Linked DNA regions of Homo sapiens. The protein of the gene in region 1 interacts with the protein of each later gene in a pairwise test. Each region holds a gene or a part of one and is shown in the gene's direction. Other genes may lie near its edges.

The links.
Region 2: the proteins of SULT4A1 (region 1) and JPH3 interact in binary tests that used the Homo sapiens proteins (3 or more experiments, as listed by UniProt).
Region 3: the proteins of SULT4A1 (region 1) and APBB2 interact in binary tests that used the Homo sapiens proteins (3 or more experiments, as listed by UniProt).
Region 4: the proteins of SULT4A1 (region 1) and RUNX1 interact in a two-hybrid assay, tested with the Homo sapiens proteins (one large-scale study listed by BioGRID and IntAct).

What each region holds. Positions count from the first base shown.
Region 1 is NC_000022.11:43,855,375-43,860,719, reverse strand, and holds part of SULT4A1 (sulfotransferase 4A1), read left to right. Parts: intron 1-5,345. UniProt on the Homo sapiens protein: Atypical sulfotransferase family member with very low affinity for 3'-phospho-5'-adenylyl sulfate (PAPS) and very low catalytic activity towards L-triiodothyronine, thyroxine, estrone, p-nitrophenol, 2-naphthylamine, and 2-beta-naphthol.
Region 2 is NC_000016.10:87,607,163-87,612,507, forward strand, and holds part of JPH3 (junctophilin-3), read left to right. Parts: intron 1-5,345. UniProt on the Homo sapiens protein: Junctophilins contribute to the formation of junctional membrane complexes (JMCs) which link the plasma membrane with the endoplasmic or sarcoplasmic reticulum in excitable cells.
Region 3 is NC_000004.12:41,206,436-41,211,780, reverse strand, and holds part of APBB2 (amyloid beta precursor protein binding family B member 2), read left to right. Parts: intron 1-5,345. UniProt on the Homo sapiens protein: Plays a role in the maintenance of lens transparency, and may also play a role in muscle cell strength. Involved in hippocampal neurite branching and neuromuscular junction formation, as a result plays a role in spatial memory functioning.
Region 4 is NC_000021.9:34,785,458-34,790,802, reverse strand, and holds the end of RUNX1 (runt-related transcription factor 1), read left to right. Parts: 3' UTR 1-3,002; downstream 3,003-5,345.

The sequences.
Region 1 (5,345 bases):
CCCTCCAAGTGGACTTCTGGTAGCCCAGTTCATATTTTCTTTTCCTTTCCTTCCATCTGCTACTGGGGATGGATTTGTAGCAGGCATCAGTGCTTACACATTAAGAACCTGGCTTCGGAGTTGGAAGTCCTGGGTTTGAATGCAGTTTTGCGGCTTACCAGCAGAGTGACCCTGGGCAGATCATAGAATCCCATTGAGCTGTGGTCTCTGCGGAGGGAGAAGAGACCACCTCGGCCCGCTGATGTGTGGCTGTGAGGATGAGCAAAATGGCGGGTGAGAACGCTTAGCCCACGTCCAGACACACGCTGGAAAGGCTCGTGGTTAATGCTGACTTTTAAGCCCTGAACACCTGTTGTGCCCAGATGCTTTGCTAGGGGCTGGGGAAGCCGAGAGGGCCCCATCTGGTGCCTGTCCTTAGTGAGCTCTCAGTCTGATGGGGGAGACATGGTTGGTGCTGGGGTTGGGGCAAGTAGCCAGGACTAACAGGTGCCCCATTCACCTGCCATGGCAGGGAACCCACGGGCCTCCTTGGATTTCCAGTGCCCAGGTGTAGGAGATCCTAATGAACTTGCAGGTGGTCAGAGCCGGAAGGGCCTGGTCCCTTGTCAGCCCCTTCCCACCCTCTGCTGATGGAGAAACTGGGGTTCAAAGGGGTGGTGGGGGCTTTCTGGTGGCTAAGGCAATGATAATTAGATCCTGCCTTCGCTTCCTGTCCGGTATTTTTTCCCACAACCCCGTGCTGCTTGCTCGGATTCTTTTTGTGCTTGCGACATTCTAGCTTAGATGGCGGGTTAGGACTGTGCTCTCCAGCGTAGGACCCTCTGCCCACAGGCGGCTGCTTACATCTAATGAATTAAAATGAAATAAAAGTGGAAATTCTGTTCCTCAGTAGCATCACCATGTTTCAGGTGCTCAGTAGCCACATGGGGCTAGCGGCTGCCGTATTGGGTGGCGCAGATATGGAGTGTTCCCATCACAGCTGAAAGTTCTGCTGCACAGCGCCAGGTAAAACCGTGATCCAGACAGTAGGAGCCCATTGTGTCTTCTGAGAAGGACCTTTCTGTTGATGACCGACTTTGTTCCTATTCATTCTTACAGCGTAGTTGGTCCTGGGACGGTGGTTGTATTAAATCCGATTGTGTCTGTGAAAATATTTTGTCCCTGTGTGTTGGTTTGATGCAATCACTGCCACTGGTTTTGTCAACAGGTTGATTTGAATTGGGTGCTCGTCCCCGAGGGGGCACAGCCCCAAAGTCATGGAGCTTGGGCTTTGAAATACGGTCCCTGGCTCAGCCAGAGCACCCACTGCCCTGAGTTTATTTTGCCCCTGGTTCCGGCCAGTCCTGAAGTGTGTGCGCATTCTCACTGATGCAGACGGAAGCTTCTGGGCCTGGGCGTGGGTGAGCCACCTGGTTTCTTTGAACCTCAGTTTGCTCATTAAAAATGAGAGGATTTGACCAGATTGATTCATTTAAGTCTTACATTTTCAGACAACTCAGGGGTTGAAGCTGAGGGGAGCTGAAGCTGAGGGGAGACTCATGGTGTGCAGGTCCCAGGCTAGATGGATGTCCTAGTTTTCTTGGTGTGTATGTCACTGTGCCTGGGAGAGACAGGTTTCAGAAGGGCTGGGCATGAGGTGATGGTGACCTTGTGGCACTTGCAGTGACATGGGGGAAGCCAGAATCCTAACACTGAAAAGTTAACTGACAAGCCAGGGTGGCTGTTCTCAGGGTCAGGTAAATGGCCTGGTAATGAGGGTTCTGAAGAGGAGGATCTCGGGAGACTGCATGGAGGAGGAGACAGGTTGGGTGGATTACCCATTACAGATGCTGTTTTGCCCTCCACCCACTTTGATTCTCAGGACGGCCCTGTGCTCTTGTGATTATTTCCTTTTTATAGATGTGAAAATGAGGGCCTAGGGAGGACAAAGGGCTGGGGTAGTGGCAGCACCGAGTGTAGATCCTGGAGAGAAACCACCCACAGGAGGGGGTAAGAGAGGCGTGGGGGTGGGAGCTAGCACCTGCCAGCGCTTCCTGGGTTACCAGTTTGTTCTGAGATGAGGGAGCATGCGGAGCCCTTTGAGCTTTACCACACAGGGTAACAAAGTGTTCCACAGCAGTGTGGTGAGTTACCTGCGTCCTATGAGGGAATGCAGAGGCCTGAAGAATGGAACGTGTGGTTTTGTACCAGAAGAACTGAGAAGTTCCTCTTTCCCCATCTTTCTCCTCTTGCTCCCTCATCCCTTCCCCTTTGTCTTCCGGCTGTTACACATACTCAGGAGGCTTGACCTGGGGAAGGGGCTGCCAAAGCAAGTGTCCTGGGTCTGCGGGGGTCACGTTTCTCCCCATCACTCAACCGGGCTGGGAGGCAAAAGCCTGCAGAATGACTTCTGGAGGAAGAAGGAGATGGGGCTGCTGGGAGCACAGCCTCCTGAGTAGTTGGCCCTGGTTGAACTTGTAGTTGGTTTGAACTCCTGGGCTTAAATAATCCTCCTGCCTTGGCCTCCCAAAGTCCTGGGATTATGGGTGTGAGCCACCATGGCTGGCCATAGTTTCTTTTGCCTTGGCCTCCCAAAGTACTGGGATTACAGGTGTGAGTCACAGTGCTTGGCCATAGTTTCTTTTCTTTCTTTCTTTTTTTTTCTTTCTTTCCTTTTTTTTTTTTTTTTTTGAGACAGGATCTTACTCTATTGCCCAGGCTGGAGTGCAGTGATGCAATCATGGCTCACTGCAGCCTCCACCTCCTGGGCTCAAGCAATCCTCCTGCCTCAGCCTCCCAAGTAGCTAGGACTGCAGGTGTGCGCCACCACACCTGGCTAATTTTTTGTATTTTTGTAGAGATAGGGTCTCACCATGTTGCCTAGGCTGGTCTTGGACTCATGGGCTCAAATGATCCTCTTACCTCGGCCTCCCAAAGTGCTGAGATTACAGGCGTGAGCTGCTATGCCAGGCCTTGGCTTGTTTAGCTTCTGCTGAAATGTTGGCTTGTTCTTTTTTCCACTGGGTAATGTGCCTGTTTTCCTCTGGCTGCCTTCAATGTTTTCTCTTTGTCTTTGATTTTCAGCACTTTGAATATGGTATGTCTAGGGTTTTTGTATGTGTGTGTTAATTATTCTACTTGGGATTCCTCTAAGCCTCTTGGATCTGTGGTTTGATGCTTTTCATTATTTTGGAAAAATTCTCAGCCATTATCTTAGAAAATGTTTCTTTTACCTCATTCTTTCTTCCTTTGAGATTCCAATTACATATATGTTAGATTGTTTGATGTTGTCCTCCAGCTCTTGGATGTTGTATTCTGTTTTCTGTTTTCTTCCCTCTTTTTTCTTTCCTTTTTTTTTTTTTTTTTTTTTGAGACAGGATCTCACTGTGCTGCTCAGACTGGCCTAGAATTCCTGGGCTTAAGCAGTCCTCTTTCCTCAGCCTCCTGAGTAGCTGGGTCTGCAGGCATACTGCTGCACCTGGCTTCTTTCTTTTTCTCTTTTTGTTCCAGTTTGGGTAATCTCTGTGGACCGATCTGTGGCTAACTGCTCCTTTCTTCTGCTGTGTCAAGTCTGCTGATGAGCTGTCAGAAGCATTCAATGTTTCTGTTATGTTTTTTTCCCTCTAGCATTTCCACTTAGAGTTTCCATTTCTCTGCTGAAATAATCCCATCTATTCATGTGTGTTGTCCATCTTTTCCTTGGGAACCTTTAACATGTTAATCAGACTTCTTAAAAATTCCATGAGTCTAATTCTGTTGATTGCTTTGTCTCTTGACAGTTTTGTTTGTGTGTGTGCGCGTGTGCCTTTTTTGTGAATAGTACCTTTTGACTGCTCAACACAGCATATTAGATAGTAGAGACTAAGGTCAGCCATATTTATGCTTGCAAATGAGGCCGGCTTTTCAACTGCTAGGCCATTAGTATAAGGAATTGAGTTAACCCCGCCTCGTTGGTCTGGTTTGGGTTCGGGTGTTGATCTGATTACCTTGAGTGACCACTGGTTTCATATTATTGTAGTGTTAGCTTGCGTTCAGTGGAGGGGCTGAGTTTCCAGAGGTTTTTTCTCAGTGTTCCTGCTCCACCTCCACCTTTTGGTCTTCCTCGTAGGTCTGAACCTTGGAGGAGTTTTGTCTGCACACTCTTGCCCCTGTGCCAGTGATCGACTCTGCTGTTATCTGTTACTTTGGTTTAGTAGCTTGGTAGGGAGGGTTTGGGGTTCTCTGTTGTGTTGTCTAGCTGCAGTCTTCTGCAGGCTCCATGTTGCTGGGTCTGGGTAGGGCTTTTTCATTGATCCTGCCCTCCTCTGAGTGGCAGCCAAACTGCCTGGATGGTAACTCTTGTGCAGGAGTTTCATGTCCCTTCTGTAGCACTGAGAATCTCTAGTAGTCAGGGCCCAGGGACAGTTTCCTGCCCCTCCCCCAAGGGCAGAGTCTTGGTTTTTCCTTTTGCCCATCTCCAGCCACATTGGGTCTTCACCAGTGCCCTGGGAGGTGACACGGTTTGCTGCCCCTCTCTCAGTGACTTAAAGCCTTTTTTCTGTAAGGGAGAAGGGTACAAGTAGGATGTTTTTCTTTTCCTACAGCCATGATACTGAGGAAGGCTCTCTCCAAAGCATGCTGCCCCCAACTCTTTCTCCTGAGCACCTGGCCTAGGTCTGGAGAAGAGCCTGTGTTTGGGTGTGAACTCTGCTCAGTGTGAGATTCTCTGGCTTCTCTGGCTTCAGAGGTTCTGTGCTGTCACATGGGCTCACCCTTGGCTTTTACCAGCATGGAAACATTTTACCTGAATTCCTCTCGCCACCTGCATGGGCTGGCTTCTCTTCCTCCAGGGCCCTGTCTCAAGTGAGCTGGTGCTTGCCTCCTGCCACTCTGTGGAAGGGCCCATCTTGGTTGAGTGAAACTAGGATCTTGTATTTTATCTGACCTCTCCCTGTTAGTGTGGGGGCAGCTCTTTCCAGTGTCCTGCATCTAGGGGGAAGTGGCCCTAGTGGTCCCTCCTGATCTCCGACCACTAGATCAGGTGGTGGGCATGTCTGTAGCTCCTGGGATGTGGGACAGGATGTTGCACAGTGTGACTGTGTTATGGTTAGCAGGGAGCGGGCTCCTAGCGTGGGCTTCTGGAGGGAGCGAGAGGAGAGTGGAGGGCCCATTGAGAGGTGGAAGCCTCCCTAAAGCATGCTTTGGAGACTTGCTGGCATTTTCTGGAAGCTAAACCAGTCATTTTGTGGGGGCTGGTGAGCCAGAGGCCCTGGCTTGGGCTTCAGGACTTGGCTCAGCTTGAAATGAGCCAGACTCTCCTGGGACCTGTTGACCCCACCAGCGGCAGGGGCATTGGACTAGGTGGTTGGCATTTGTCCTGCTCAAGC
Region 2 (5,345 bases), on another chromosome or scaffold:
AAACCCATACACTGCCCAGGACCCCTGGCCCCCTGAGGCCCACCATGCATGCCGGTGCTGCACCGCACAGGTATAGATCTTTCCTTCGGGTGCTGTGTACACAGAACCCCTCGAATCGAAAGTTACCCCCTCCAATAAGCCCTCCTACACCCTGAAAGATATGAGTCATCTCACGCCCAAGCCTCTCCCCCTCATACTCAGGTCCCGTTCACCGGCCCAGATTCCTCAACCCACACAAATCACACACACCCACAGTCGGAATTCAGATCCCCCCAGGCGCCTGCGCACACACACGCGCACAAAACACCTGCCACCCGGAGACATTTTCCACCCCGTCCCCCAGAACGCAGCCACTGCGCCCTTGCGGCCTTGCTTGCTCTCCACTGGCCAAGGACTCTGAATCTCCACCAGGCCTGTAAACGGGGAGCTCAGATGACAGAGGCAGTGGTGTGCTTCGTTTCCATTTTAAACACACGTTTATGCTGTTAGTGCCCTTTTAGGGAGAAAAATCCCTCATCTCAACAAAATAAACTACCATGGGGCGTATGCTTTGTGCTTGGCTATGACTATGACTATGCAACAAGTAATTTCTTTTTCAAATGAGTGCCCAGGTTAGAAGGAATCAGGTTCATTGGTGCGGAGATTATGCCAACAGAAACTCATTTCAGAAACAAGAAGCAAGCCCTGAGCAGTTGGAGACGAAAGCGTTTTCTCCGAGATTCTCTTTCCGCTACTTCGGGGGGCGGGTGGTGAAAGGCTCCGTAAGGTGAAAAGAGAAAGGAAGAAGCAAACAGCTATTTTTTTGTTGCCAGTTATAGCTGAGAAACAAATGTGGCTGAAGGGCACCCCTACCCACGTTGGCCGTGAGGCCGTTTGATGGGCTTTGTGTGAGGAATCCTGAGATGAGCTGGCCGGGGAGTGAGGACCGGCACCCGCCTACAGCAGCGATCTGGAGTAGTGAGTGAGCAGCCCCAGCTGACACAGAGAAGGAGAGAGAGAACTCTGACCCCTTCTCTTCTGAGGACACCCAGCCGGAGAGAGCAAGAAGGGGTGGAGTGTGGGGGTGGGGGCAGGAGCCTCTGCTGTTCCTTTCCAAGACTTTTTCTTCCTGTTTTCCCCAAGCCTCCACAACTCTAAATATGACGAGCTCTCAACTGTGAGCTAATAATGTTGAATGTAACGCCCTTTGTGTCCTTAGATGACAAAAAGACTTGTGAGTACTAGAGGAGAGGGTGATGTTGGTGTGAATTTTCCACATTGGTCCGTGTCTCCGTGGACTGGCCGCTTCCCCCGCTGGTAGCTTCATGGCTGTGAGAGGCCATGCGGTGGATGGAGCCACCGCTGCACTGGGGTCCTGGCTCGAACTTGAGTAAGGTGCTGTCTTCCAAGTCTGGAGAGGAGAGGAGGAGAGAAGAGAGGCAGTCCCTTCAGCACCTTGGAGAGCGCTCCCGGCTGCCTGCCTGGGTTGGGTGGACGGCTGGACTCACTTTCGCTCTAGGCATCCTCTTCAAGCCAAACCATCTCTCCTTGCCAGTGACCGCCTGGTCCCGGACCCTCCAGCACACTCAACCACCAGAAGTGTGCCTATGCCTGTGCCAGATGTGGGGGCCACGCCTGCGATCCCAACACTTTGGGAGGCCGAGATGGGAGGTTCACTTGAGCCCAGGAGTTTGAGACCAGCCTGGGCAACATTGTGAGACCCCCGTCTCTACAAAAAATACAAAAATTAGCCAGGTGTGGTGCTGCACGCCTGTGGTCCCACCACTCAGGAGGCTGAGGTGAGAGGATCGCTTGAGCCCCGGAGGTCAAGGCTGCAGTGAGCCAAGATGGTGCCACTGCACTCCAGCCTGCTGACAGAGCCAGACCCCATCTCAAAAGAAAAAGAAGAAGTGTGCCTGGTCCTACTCAGTCGGTGCATGGATTCCATGCTCCAGGAAGGGCTGCCACTTGGCATGCCTGCCTATGTTTTCACCCCTACCCTGTCAGTCCTTCCTGAAGAAGTGAGTGTCTTCTGAGGTAACATCCTCTGCTGGTCAACTGGGAGAGCAGCTCCCAGCTTGTGGAGGTGGGTTTGGGGGTGAGACTTTATTTTTTTGTTTTTATTTATTTATTTATCTGTTTTGAGATGGAGTCTCACCCTGTAGCCCAAGGTGGAGTGCAGTGGAGTGATCTTGGCTCATTGCAACCTCTGCCTCCTGGGCTCAAGTCATTCTCATGCCTCAGCCTCCCGAGTAGCTGGGATTACAGGCATACACCACCACACCTGGCTAATGTTTTGGGTTTTAGTAGAGACAGTGTTTTGCCATGTTGGCCAGGCTGGTCTTGAACTGAACTCAGGCGATCTGCGTGCCTCGGCCTCCCAAAGTGTTGGGATTACAGGTGTGAGCCACTGTGCCCGGCCTAGGGTGAGACTTTAGTAAGATGTATAGAAGTTGCTCTGAAGTCTAAGGTGTATTCCTGCCATAGGATATGTGTGTTCACTTCTCTTGGAGCATAACAGGGGTCATAGGTGCACAGCCGAAGGCAGGCAGAGGAATGATTTGTCTGTACCAGTCAGTGAAACTGTTTCACCACCATTCTCTTTACATCTGCCTCAATGGGTGAGTCCTCTAGACCAATGGTCCCCAACCTTTTTGGCACCAGGGACCTGTTTCATGGAAGACAATTTTTCTACCGCCCAGGGTTGAGGGATGGTTTTGGGATGATTCAGGCGCATTCTATTTATTGTGTGCTTTATTTCTATTATTATTACATTGTAATATATAGTGAAGTAATAATACAACTCACCATCATGTAGAATCAGTGGGAGCCCTGAGTTTGTTTTCCTACAACTAGACGGTCTCATCTGGGGGTGATGGGAGATAGTGACAGATCATCGGACATTAGATTATCATAAGGAGTGTGCAAACTAGGTCCCTGGCATGAGCAGTTTCCAGTAGGCTCTGCATTCCTATGAGAATCTAATGCTGCTGCTGATCTCACAGGAGGCAGAGCTCAGGCAGTAATGCAAGCGTTGGAGAGCGGCTGTAAATACAGACGAAGCTTCACTTGCTTGCTTACTCACTCGCCACTCACCTCCTGCTGTGTGGCTGGGTTCCTAACAGGCAACGAACCAGTACCAGCCACATTTCACGGGCTCAACAGCCACCTGGGACTAGTCGCCACCATATTGGACAATGTAAATCCAGAACATTCCATCAGTGCAGAAAGCTTTATTGGGCAGGCAGCACTGGTCTGGAGTGTAAGTTCCATATGGGAAGCGGTTTGTGTCCATGCTGGTCACTGCCATGTGCCCAGTGACTAAAATGGTGCTGGCACGTGGTGGTCAATAAATATTTGTGGAATGAATGACCTGTGCAAGTAAATGCGGTAGTATTTGGTAATTTTGTTTACCGTCATTATTTCGTATGCCTGTTTCATTGCAAGACCTTAGAATTGGACGTAGTTAAAGGAAAGTTTTTCCGTGAGACCCTCATGTCCACAGGTCAGTCTCCCTTTACAATTAGCATTAAAACATGCCTGTTCTAATTCCTTGATCAGTTTTGTTTTGTGGTTGGCTTTGTCATTGCTCCTTAAGAGACTGCCAGTGTTTCATATGAGAAAGATGATGGTGTTGAATGCAGTGAATAATGGAGCGATACCAGCAGTCATGACTGGGAGGCATTTTTGGACCACGATTTAATGAGTAGCATTCATTGCAAAGTGCAAAGAAAGGCCCATGGAAAGATGAGTACCCTCCAGTCTGCTTAATTCCTCACTATCTTTTTACTGCTCCCTTTTCCTTGGCTTGATTCGTTCAGTCATTGGAGAAGCATTTGCCAAGTTCAGACCGTGTTCAAGGCACAAAGACAGAAAAGCTCAGGTCCAACCTCAGTGAATCAGCCTTAAGTATTTGCTGAGCATTGAGTATGTACGCAGTACAGAGTTTGTGGTAACGTGGAAGATTGGAAAAAAAGAAACAAACACATAAAAATGAAAATGCAAGAAATAGGATGTCCTATGTTCTACCAGGAAGAATAAGGAGTCTGAACAGGGATGCAAAACCGAGATATATGGAATAATTCAGGGTTTCTCATGCCACAGTGGGGGTCCTGAATGGGAGCACCACAGGGCAGGGACCTGAGGAGGGGCAGGGCAGGTGTGTGTGTCCCTGAAGGAGCGGCAGAGGCTTCTGGGGGTAGGCAGTGCCTGAGTTGAGTCTGGAAGGGCAGTAGGGTGAGAGTTGTTATCCCAAGCCTGAGGCTGCAGATTTGTTCGAGGCCATGTCTCCCTCAGCCTCAGCTTCCCCATCTCTATGATTTAGTCATGACATTTTTTTCCTTCTCAACATGTGCCATCTCCCTCCTACCTATGAATGTCACGGGTATTGTTCTGGACCCAGGGAAGGCTCGCTGGTGCAAATGCTTTCCAAAAACACCGAGAGTCGCTCTCTCTGCTGCTGGTGGAGTCTGAGTTGGGCAGGACATGGGCCCGCCTCTGTCTGCTGCTCTATGCCAGTGCTTCCCAAGCCTGAGTGTTACAAGAACCACCTGGAAGGTGTGTCAAGACACAGATTTCCAGCCCCACCCCTGAGTCTCTGGGCCTGGGATGCCACCCAAGAATTTATATTTCTTACAAATTTCAGGCGATGCTGAGGCTGCTGATCTGGGGACCTCACATTAAGAACCACAGTCCTGGGCTTGTGCCTCCTAAGCCTGGCTACACATTCGAGTCACTAAGAATGTCCCTGGGAGACGGTTAGAAATGCAGCGTGTCAGGCCTGCCTGACCTCCAGGGTCAGGATGTGTGTTTGGAGATGCTCAGGTGGCTGCAGTGCAGGAGATCCTGCTTTGGTGCACTCACTTTAACCCTAGCTGTGCATGAGCTTCATCTAGGTTGCTTTAGAAAATGCAGATGCCCGGGCCCCACCCACAGGTGCTGATTGAGGTCCTCTGGGTACAGCCTGGGCATTGGGATTCTTTTTATTTTAATTTTTTTCAGACGGGGGCTGGCTCCGTCTGTCGTCCTGGCGTGCAATAGTGTGTGATCGTGGCTCACTGCAACCTCTGCCTCCTGGCCTCAAGCCATCTTCCCACCTCAGCCTCCTGAGTAGCTGGGACTGCAGGCATGCACCCCCATGCCCAGCTAAGTTTTGTTATTTGTTGTAGAGATGGGGTTTTGTCGTGTTTCCCAGACTGGTCTCAAACTCCTGAGCTCAAGCGATCCGCCCACCTTGGCCTCCTGAAGTGCTTTTACAGGTGTGAGCAACTTTTTTACAGGATTACAGGTGTGAGCAACTGCACCTGGCCTGAGATTATTTTTTAAACATTCCAGGTGATTCTAACGTTCAGCGCAGGTTGAGGACC
Region 3 (5,345 bases), on another chromosome or scaffold:
GCCGGGTACGGTGGCTAACACCTATAATCACAGCACTTTGGGAAGCTGAGGCGGGCAGATCACTTGAGGTCAGGAGTTTGAGACCAGCCTGGCCAAGAGGTAAAACCCCCGTCTCTAAAAAAATACAAAAATTAGCCGGGTGTGGTGGCTCCCGCCTGTAATCCCAGCTACTGGGAAAGCTGAGGCAGGAGAATCACTTGAACCTGGGAGGTGGAGGTTACAGTGAGCCAAGATCGCGCCACTGCACTCCAGCCTGGGCAAAAGGGTGAGACTCCGTCTCAAAATAAATACATAAATAAAATAAATAAATAAGTAAATAAATAACAAAACAAAACTGGACAATACCCTTGTGATATAACACCTTAAGTTTTCCGGGGGCGGGGGAGGGGAGCAGGTGGGACAGACTTTTAGGAAAATATTGTAATAAGTTATTACTGGTTATGGGGGGAATACTTATTTTCCTACATGGGGTTAGGAAACCAGCATTTGTTCAGTGCCTAGTATTATTATTATTATTATTATTTTTGAGACAGAGTTTCAGTCTGTCACCCAGGCTGGAGTGTAGTGGCGCGATCTTGGCTCACTGTAACCTCCACCTCCCAGGTTCAAGTAATTCTCCTGCCTCAGCCTCCTGAGTAGCTGGGATTCCAGGTGCCCGCCACCACGCCTGGCTAATTTTTGTAATTTTAGTAGAAATGGGGTTTCACCATGTTGGCCAGGCTGGTCTCCAAGTCCTGACCTCAGGAGGTCCACCAGTCTCGGTCTCCCAAAGTGCTGGGATTACAGGCGTGAGCCATCACGCCTGGTCTGTTCAGTGCTTTTTATGTGTCCTATTATCCTATTAAGGTTTTGTATATATCATCTTATGCTGTAAGCATCTATGCATAAATGTCAGCTGTCTAAGAAAACCCCTCTGAAAAGGTAGATGCTCGTGATTTCACAGCAATAGAGCTTTAAACTTTTATCTTATATGAAAATATCTTTAATTGATTCCATTATTATTCAGTAAGCATTCTCTTTTAAAGCATCTTTGATTTGTTATTTAGAATTAAATTTGATTGGAACTGCATATCTTCAGAATGATTTGAATGTTTTCAAGAAGGTTCTATCCAGATTTTAAAACTGTTTTGTGTTCATTTATTTTCAATAATGTTGCACTACCAACAAATGAAATTAGATGTCAGAAGATAAACCCAGATTAGCCATTTTGATTTTAATGTGTTATTAGTGCATATTCTGCATGCTGATATGTGTTGACGGCATTTCTCTCAGCCGAAATGGTTTGTCAGAGGCAGAGTAACAGACTCTCCATAATAAAGGGTCTGGGGGGATTTGGAGGAAAGACTACTAACCAGGGACCCCAAAGACTTGCCTTTGGGGCTGGCTTGTCCCTTACTTCAATTCACTGTGTTACCTGGAAAAAGTCAGTTATGTCTCTGGGCCTGTTTTCCCATCTGTAAAATGAGAGAGCTGCAGTCACCCTCTGGTTGTCTATCGGGTCCTTCTTGTCCCAGTCTAGAGATCTGTGATGCAGCCATTCGAGGAGAGAGGTCTTCGTTTAAGAGCAGGGGTCCCCAGCCCCCTGCTTCGGACCTGAACTGGTCAGTGGCCTATTAGGAACCGGGCCATAGAGCAGGAGGTGAGCGGCGGGCAAGTGACCTTTACCACCTGAGCTCCACCTCTGTCAGATCAGTGGTGGCATTTGATTCTCACAGGACTGTGAACCCTGTTGTGAACTGCACATGTGTGGGATCTTGGTTGTGCACTCCCTATGAGAATCTACTGCTTGTTGATCTGAGTTGGAACAGTTTCATCCCAATCCCCAACCCCATCCGTGGAAAAATTGTCTTCCATGAACGCTGTCTGGAGACCACTGGTTTAGAGCATTATTTGGAGGTGATTTTGTGTTTCCCTGTCTGGTTTGTCACTGCTTTGTCCAATGCCCTTCTTTTTTTGCCCAATTCCTACTTCCCTTATAGTTTTCATTTGTTATAAAATGGTTGTCATAAAATTAACTTTATGGCCCTGCCAGTCTAGTTAGCAGATAAGGTAATGATTAGATTTGGGTAAAGTGTATTCGACATTTGAAACTACTTCATAGCATTTTCTGCGGGGAGACTTTCTGCTCTTGAGCACACAGATAGTCTGAGAAAGAAACCTCTACCTAGGCTGCAGGGGAGGGGGTCCTGTGCTTTGCTTCCCAGGCCCACCCTTGTGAAATTTTGGCAAGCCTTTCCTGTGTCCCAGCCTTTGTCTCCTCGCCTCGATGAGAAATGCAGCCCTTGGTCTCTGGAATACGACTTTCACTCTCATTTGACGTTAGCCCTGTCACTGTGTTGGACAGATGCCTGTGATTGGCTGCTGCAGTAGCAGGAGTGGTGGCTGGTGAAATGTGTCTACTCAGTGTCATTAGCAGGATCATGAGCTTTTTTTTCTTTTTTCTTGGCAAGCTGCGATGGGGCAGAGAGCAAAGGAAACCAATCCCATTTGGTGTTTTTAGTGCATTTTGCTTTCAAGAGGCTCACAAAACTCAGCCTCATTAACCTTTAAGTGAGTCAGTGAGGAGTTGTTATCCCATTGAAATAATTTTTAATAAAGGGAGAGTGACTCTAGTTCCTCTAATAACCAGGCTCCAGGGTTCCTGGACCCCTGTTAGGAGTGGGTCATTAACTCCAGACATTAGATGAGAGCTGGGAGAGAGGAAGGGCATAGAGGGTGGAAGGTCAAGTCACACAACTGGGCAGGAAGTAAGAAGCTTGATCAGTTTAAAGGTATTAGAGCTCTTTGTGTGTAGAGTTACAGGAGATATTCCCTTTCTATATAATTTATTTCCATGGTGTTTGAATCTTATCTTGTTTTCTGTAATGGACGTATATTTATTTTATAATCAGAGAAAAATCCCAATATATAATTTATTGATATATAAAATGTACAGATTCACATGGACAAATACGAGAAGAGAACATGGAAAGAAATGAATGGTATAGAAAAGGATGGATTAAAGCTTTTCTTTGTTGTTGGTTAATGACTTGACAGTGGTTATAAACAAAGTTTACCAGTTCTACCCTCTCTTTTCCTCTTGTGGAAATCTTGCAAACTTTGTTTGCTAGGTAATAACTGAAGTTCCCGAAGTGTAACTCATTGGCAAGTATGCTTCAGGAATGCTTAGAGTGGGAGGAAGAGTGTCGTTTTTTTTAAGTTGATGAAAAAGAATGCAGAAACCGGGAGCAGTGGCTCATGCCTGTAATCCTAGCACTTTCGGAGGCCAAGGCAGGTGGCTCACTTGAGGTCGGGAGTTTGAGACCAGCCTGGCCAACATGGTGAAACCCCGTCTCTGCTAAAAATACAAAAATTAGCCGGGCATGGTGGCACACGCCTGTAATTTCAGCTACTCAGGAGGCTGAGGCAGGAGAATCGCTTGAACCCAGGAGGTGGAGGTTGCTGTGAGCTGAGACCGCGCCACTGCACTCCAGCCTGGGTGAAAGGGCGAGACTCTGTCTCAAAAAAAAGAATGCAGAATATTGGAATCGAGGTAGAAGGAAAAACGTGTGTTTAAGAGGGTGAGATAGATTGGAGAGACTTTGCGGAATTCCAGAGGGTAAAGGGAAATGCCATTGTTGAAGAAGGAAGGCCTGGCATTACTGGAGGTATGGGATGTGTCCCTGTCGTGTAAGTCAGAGCTCAGTTTCCACACAATATAAAAGTAAATGAGTATCTCCTATATGCAGAGCATAATGTTAGCCCCACAGGTCATTTATTGTTGGTTAGTGGTTTTCACTGTTCTTATCACAATGATGATAATGATGTAGTGAATATGTCATAATTGTTCAAATAAGAAGATATGTCCTTTTCTCTGATACTATGCCTTTCTCATTTTTGGGTAAGATTCTTTTATGATTTGATAGGAATATTTTTATCTAGCCGCTGAATGGTCCATGAAATTGGTAAGTCTGGGAATCTGGGCCTGAGATGCAGGGAGGCCTGCCCTTGGGATTGAGTTGAGTCATGGAGGCCAGGCCAACATGTGGAGTTTGTGGGTCAGCTGATGGGGCCCCTGGGCTTTCCAGGAATATAGAGTCACCCAAGGTCCTAGGAACTGTGAATGAGCTAATTTTGAAAGTGCCCTAGGAGCCAGTGACTATTTTTGAATTATAGCTTGAGAATGACAAGGAAAGCACCAAGATGAAAGATGAGGGTGTAAGGGAACAGAATGGGCAAGTGGTTGAAGTGTGAATTTCAGCAGGTGAACCTCAAGATGTATCTTGACATTTGATTCTTTGCATGCAGGCCTCTTTCTGGCAAAACAACACTCTTTAGCAATTCTTAGTTAGTGATTCTAGGAAATGGTGATGGGTGAAAGCCATAGAACCTAGAATTGTGTAATAGCCAGCTTGGCCCAGACCTCTGCAGTATCATTCCCTCCAGGGTGAGCCTTGAATTGCTGGAGGAAGCTTCAGAATGATTTGCTCATGGAATTGCTGTTATTCACCTTTAGTTTTGGTTGCTATTGTGGGGTGAAGAAGGAGTGTCAAAACAATAACAACAAATTATTTCCTTTTTTTTTTTTTTTTTTTTTTTTTTTGAGACGGAGTCTCACTTGGTCGCCCAGGCTGGAATGCAGTGGCTTAATCTCGGCTCACTGCAACCTCCACCTTCCAGGTTCAAGCAGTTTTCCTGCCTCAGCTACCCAAGTAGTTGGAACTACAGGTGCCCGCCACTGTATCCGGCTAATTTTTGTATTTTTAGTAGAGGCTGGGGTTTCACCACTTTGGCCAAGCAGGTCTCGAACTCCTGACCTCAAGTGATCTGCCCGCCTCAGCCTCTCAAAGTGCTGGGATTACAGGTATGGGTCCTCTCCCTGGCAGCATCCTGCTTGCTCTTTGGTGCTGGCTCTGTTCTTACCTTCTGATCTTCCTTCTGTTTCTCAGGTAGACTTCTGTCCTGGGCAAGAGTCGACCTGCCACATTGAGTATCACAATTTGCTAGGTGGTATTGTTTGTCAGTGGAAGTGAATAAATCAGAATTTCCTTAGCATGAGTTAGGTTTCTTGAGTTGTTTCATTCCTGGGGGAACTAATACCGTTAAAATTTCCTTGACATTTCAAGAAATGATCATATACCACATTGCAAATTTTGAACACAGCAGAGGCATGATTTGGGTGTAGAGACACCTTGGGAAGCATTGATTCAGACTCAGATTCTTCAGATTATCTGATCAGAACCTCTTGTCCTCTCCAAGAACCAAGGTCTGTGTATACCTTTTCCAGGACACTGGTGAAGAGAGACATTCATTTGGTGACATCCAGAAACCTCGGCTTCATTTGTTCCTTCCTTTGTTCAGCAAAT
Region 4 (5,345 bases), on another chromosome or scaffold:
ATTTAAGGGCCCACCAGAAGCAGGCCTCGAGGAGTCAATTTGCCTCTGTGTGCCTCAGTGGAGACAAGTGGGAAAACATGGTCCCACCTGTGCGAGACCCCCTGTCCTGTGCTGCTCACTCAACAACATCTTTGTGTTGCTTTCACCAGGCTGAGACCCTACCCTATGGGGTATATGGGCTTTTACCTGTGCACCAGTGTGACAGGAAAGATTCATGTCACTACTGTCCGTGGCTACAATTCAAAGGTATCCAATGTCGCTGTAAATTTTATGGCACTATTTTTATTGGAGGATTTGGTCAGAATGCAGTTGTTGTACAACTCATAAATACTAACTGCTGATTTTGACACATGTGTGCTCCAAATGATCTGGTGGTTATTTAACGTACCTCTTAAAATTCGTTGAAACGATTTCAGGTCAACTCTGAAGAGTATTTGAAAGCAGGACTTCAGAACAGTGTTTGATTTTTATTTTATAAATTTAAGCATTCAAATTAGGCAAATCTTTGGCTGCAGGCAGCAAAAACAGCTGGACTTATTTAAAACAACTTGTTTTTGAGTTTTCTTATATATATATTGATTATTTGTTTTACACACATGCAGTAGCACTTTGGTAAGAGTTAAAGAGTAAAGCAGCTTATGTTGTCAGGTCGTTCTTATCTAGAGAAGAGCTATAGCAGATCTCGGACAAACTCAGAATATATTCACTTTCATTTTTGACAGGATTCCCTCCACAACTCAGTTTCATATATTATTCCGTATTACATTTTTGCAGCTAAATTACCATAAAATGTCAGCAAATGTAAAAATTTAATTTCTGAAAAGCACCATTAGCCCATTTCCCCCAAATTAAACGTAAATGTTTTTTTTCAGCACATGTTACCATGTCTGACCTGCAAAAATGCTGGAGAAAAATGAAGGAAAAAATTATGTTTTTCAGTTTAATTCTGTTAACTGAAGATATTCCAACTCAAAACCAGCCTCATGCTCTGATTAGATAATCTTTTACATTGAACCTTTACTCTCAAAGCCATGTGTGGAGGGGGCTTGTCACTATTGTAGGCTCACTGGATTGGTCATTTAGAGTTTCACAGACTCTTACCAGCATATATAGTATTTAATTGTTTCAAAAAAAATCAAACTGTAGTTGTTTTGGCGATAGGTCTCACGCAACACATTTTTGTATGTGTGTGTGTGTGCGTGTGTGTGTGTGTGTGTGAAAAATTGCATTCATTGACTTCAGGTAGATTAAGGTATCTTTTTATTCATTGCCCTCAGGAAAGTTAAGGTATCAATGAGACCCTTAAGCCAATCATGTAATAACTGCATGTGTCTGGTCCAGGAGAAGTATTGAATAAGCCATTTCTACTGCTTACTCATGTCCCTATTTATGATTTCAACATGGATACATATTTCAGTTCTTTCTTTTTCTCACTATCTGAAAATACATTTCCCTCCCTCTCTTCCCCCCAATATCTCCCTTTTTTTCTCTCTTCCTCTATCTTCCAAACCCCACTTTCTCCCTCCTCCTTTTCCTGTGTTCTCTTAAGCAGATAGCACATACCCCCACCCAGTACCAAATTTCAGAACACAAGAAGGTCCAGTTCTTCCCCCTTCACATAAAGGAACATGGTTTGTCAGCCTTTCTCCTGTTTATGGGTTTCTTCCAGCAGAACAGAGACATTGCCAACCATATTGGATCTGCTTGCTGTCCAAACCAGCAAACTTTCCTGGGCAAATCACAATCAGTGAGTAAATAGACAGCCTTTCTGCTGCCTTGGGTTTCTGTGCAGATAAACAGAAATGCTCTGATTAGAAAGGAAATGAATGGTTCCACTCAAATGTCCTGCAATTTAGGATTGCAGATTTCTGCCTTGAAATACCTGTTTCTTTGGGACATTCCGTCCTGATGATTTTTATTTTTGTTGGTTTTTATTTTTGGGGGGAATGACATGTTTGGGTCTTTTATACATGAAAATTTGTTTGACAATAATCTCACAAAACATATTTTACATCTGAACAAAATGCCTTTTTGTTTACCGTAGCGTATACATTTGTTTTGGGATTTTTGTGTGTTTGTTGGGAATTTTGTTTTTAGCCAGGTCAGTATTGATGAGGCTGATCATTTGGCTCTTTTTTTCCTTCCAGAAGAGTTGCATCAACAAAGTTAATTGTATTTATGTATGTAAATAGATTTTAAGCTTCATTATAAAATATTGTTAATGCCTATAACTTTTTTTCAATTTTTTTGTGTGTGTTTCTAAGGACTTTTTCTTAGGTTTGCTAAATACTGTAGGGAAAAAAATGCTTCTTTCTACTTTGTTTATTTTAGACTTTAAAATGAGCTACTTCTTATTCACTTTTGTAAACAGCTAATAGCATGGTTCCAATTTTTTTTAAGTTCACTTTTTTTGTTCTAGGGGAAATGAATGTGCAAAAAAAGAAAAAGAACTGTTGGTTATTTGTGTTATTCTGGATGTATAAAAATCAATGGAAAAAAATAAACTTTCAAATTGAAATGACGGTATAACACATCTACTGAAAAAGCAACGGGAAATGTGGTCCTATTTAAGCCAGCCCCCACCTAGGGTCTATTTGTGTGGCAGTTATTGGGTTTGGTCACAAAACATCCTGAAAATTCGTGCGTGGGCTTCTTTCTCCCTGGTACAAACGTATGGAATGCTTCTTAAAGGGGAACTGTCAAGCTGGTGTCTTCAGCCAGATGACATGAGAGAATATCCCAGAACCCTCTCTCCAAGGTGTTTCTAGATAGCACAGGAGAGCAGGCACTGCACTGTCCACAGTCCACGGTACACAGTCGGGTGGGCCGCCTCCCCTCTCCTGGGAGCATTCGTCGTGCCCAGCCTGAGCAGGGCAGCTGGACTGCTGCTGTTCAGGAGCCACCAGAGCCTTCCTCTCTTTGTACCACAGTTTCTTCTGTAAATCCAGTGTTACAATCAGTGTGAATGGCAAATAAACAGTTTGACAAGTACATACACCATATCCAATTGGTTTTGTCTTTCTCTGAGATGGAGGGTTGGGAAACTGAGTAAGGCCCACTGCACACACTAGGAAGATACCTCCAGTGAACAGCTTCAGGCTGAAGCTATGTCCTCACCCCCGGTGCTCCTAGCACACTCTGGCTTCTGAAGGCATGAGGGCCTGGAAAAGGCGCAGGCTCCCAGGGTTGCTTCTTTGCATATGAAAGAGCACTGAAGCATGTTTTAATGCTTGTTTTAAAAAATAATAATAGGCCGGCGCGGTGGCTCACGCCTGTAATCCCAGCACGTTGGGAGGCCGAGGCGGGCGGATCATGAGGTCAGGAGATCGCGACCATCCTGGCTAACACGGTGAAACTCTGTCTCTACTAAAAATATAAAAAATTAGCCTGGCGTGGTGGCGGCTGTAGTCCCAACTACTCAGGAGGCTGAGGCAGAAGAATGGCGTGAACCCGGGAGGCGGAAGTTGCAGTGAGCCGAGATCGCGCCACTGCACTCTAGCCTGGGCGACAGAGCGAGACTCCATCTCAAAAATAATAATAATAATAAAGAAACTAAAAAGAGTTACATGACACTAGCCAACCCAAAGTGGAAAGGGCTGTATGTTCAACCTAAGGCCAGGAAGCTTCATCTGCCTTCATTGCTGTACATTGCAGGAATCAGGCTTGGGTAGTGGTTGGGAGTTTTTTAAAAGAAATACTTCTCTCACCACCACCCCAGTGCAAAGTATCTTTAGTATTTTAGTTTCAAGACTCTGGGTTCAACTCAAGGTATCTTCCCACCAAGAATTACTGTCTAAAGTATCTTCCAGTTCTGTCACTGCTGTCTCATGGGACCTCATGACTGATGCTAGAAGAAAATCTTCAGCCGAATCAAGTTTAAAGGAGTTTAACTGAGCAATGAACAATTTGTGAATCGGGCAGCCCCCAGGAACACAGCAGATTCACGGAGACTCCAGGGGTGCCTCGTGGTCAGAACAAATTTATAGACCAAACAGGTAGAGTGATGTACAAGAATCGGAAGTGAGGTACAGATACAGTGAGATTGGTTACAGCTTGGCGTTTGCCTTATTTGAACGCAGTTTGAACATTCAGGAGTCTATGAGTGGTTGAATTATGACCACTGGGATTGGCCAACCCTTAGCTATTGTTACAGGTGCATACTATTAAGTTAGGTTTTTAATTTTGTCTGACCATTAAGCTAGGTTACAGTTCATCCACAGGACTCAAATATAGAAATATGGAGTCCTTCTCAGGCCATATTTAGTTTGCTTTAACATTGATCTTAAATGGTCTGCAGGAGGACCACAAAAAATGTCAGGAACCAAAGTGGGGTCAGCAAGAAAGGATGTGACCTAGAAGTCACCGCTCCTGAGCACAGGTAGGAAACAGGGGTAGGATCAGGCAGTACATGGACATGGCCATGCACAAAGAAGAAGAAAACAGAAGCTTGTCAGTGAGATGCTTGATTACCACGTCTCTAGCCAGTCGTTAAACTAAACTTTAGTGTCAGAGAGATTTTGTACCTTCTGAAGAGCTCAAGTTATTTCAGAGGAGAAACCTAGGCCTGAAGAAGAAAACAACAAACATTTGTGCCTTGATGTTGACCTTGATCGCCTGGCTGAAGTAGCGTTTGTTATATCTCTCTTCCAGAATGTTACCCTTTTATCTCCCCCGACTTTTCACTGTCCCCTTTGGAAGGAAGTCACGATGCACAGCCCCACTTAGGGAATGTGGAGCTATGCTCTCGTTTCCTTCAGGAGGCAGGAGTCCTTGGCTGAGGACACCAGGACACCCCCCACCCAGTGGCCTCATGCCTCATGGGAAACAGAGCCCAGGTGTCCTCCGTGTGAAGGCTCTCTCTGCTCCAGAGAGGACAGGTAGCTCCTCCCCCTGCTAAGGTGCACCAATGCCTACCCCCACCCCTCCAGCCTAGAGGATCCAAAAGTTCAGAATGTTCAGGGTTCTAGAAGCAGCTCCACATTGCCCACTTTGGGCTGTCTTTGTATAAGGCCAAGCTTTCCCACCCACACTCCACCCACCCTCCAATAATGTAGACAAAGTCCCCACCAGAGTTTCCCAATGTGGCTCAGGATTCTAAGAAGTCACCACCATTTCTTGGGGGTCGGGGGAAAGAACTGGCTGGGGTTTATCTTATAACCTCACAGAATTCCCCACATCTTTATTCAAAATGAGCCCACCCTGTGGTCATGACGATGCTTACCTGGGTTCCCAGAATCCTAAATCCCAGAATCTAAAGGGAACTCACAGATGAATAAATGCAATCCTCCCTCAGATGTATAAATACCTCTCCCCACCCCTTGGGGTTTCTCCACAGATAGTTTTGC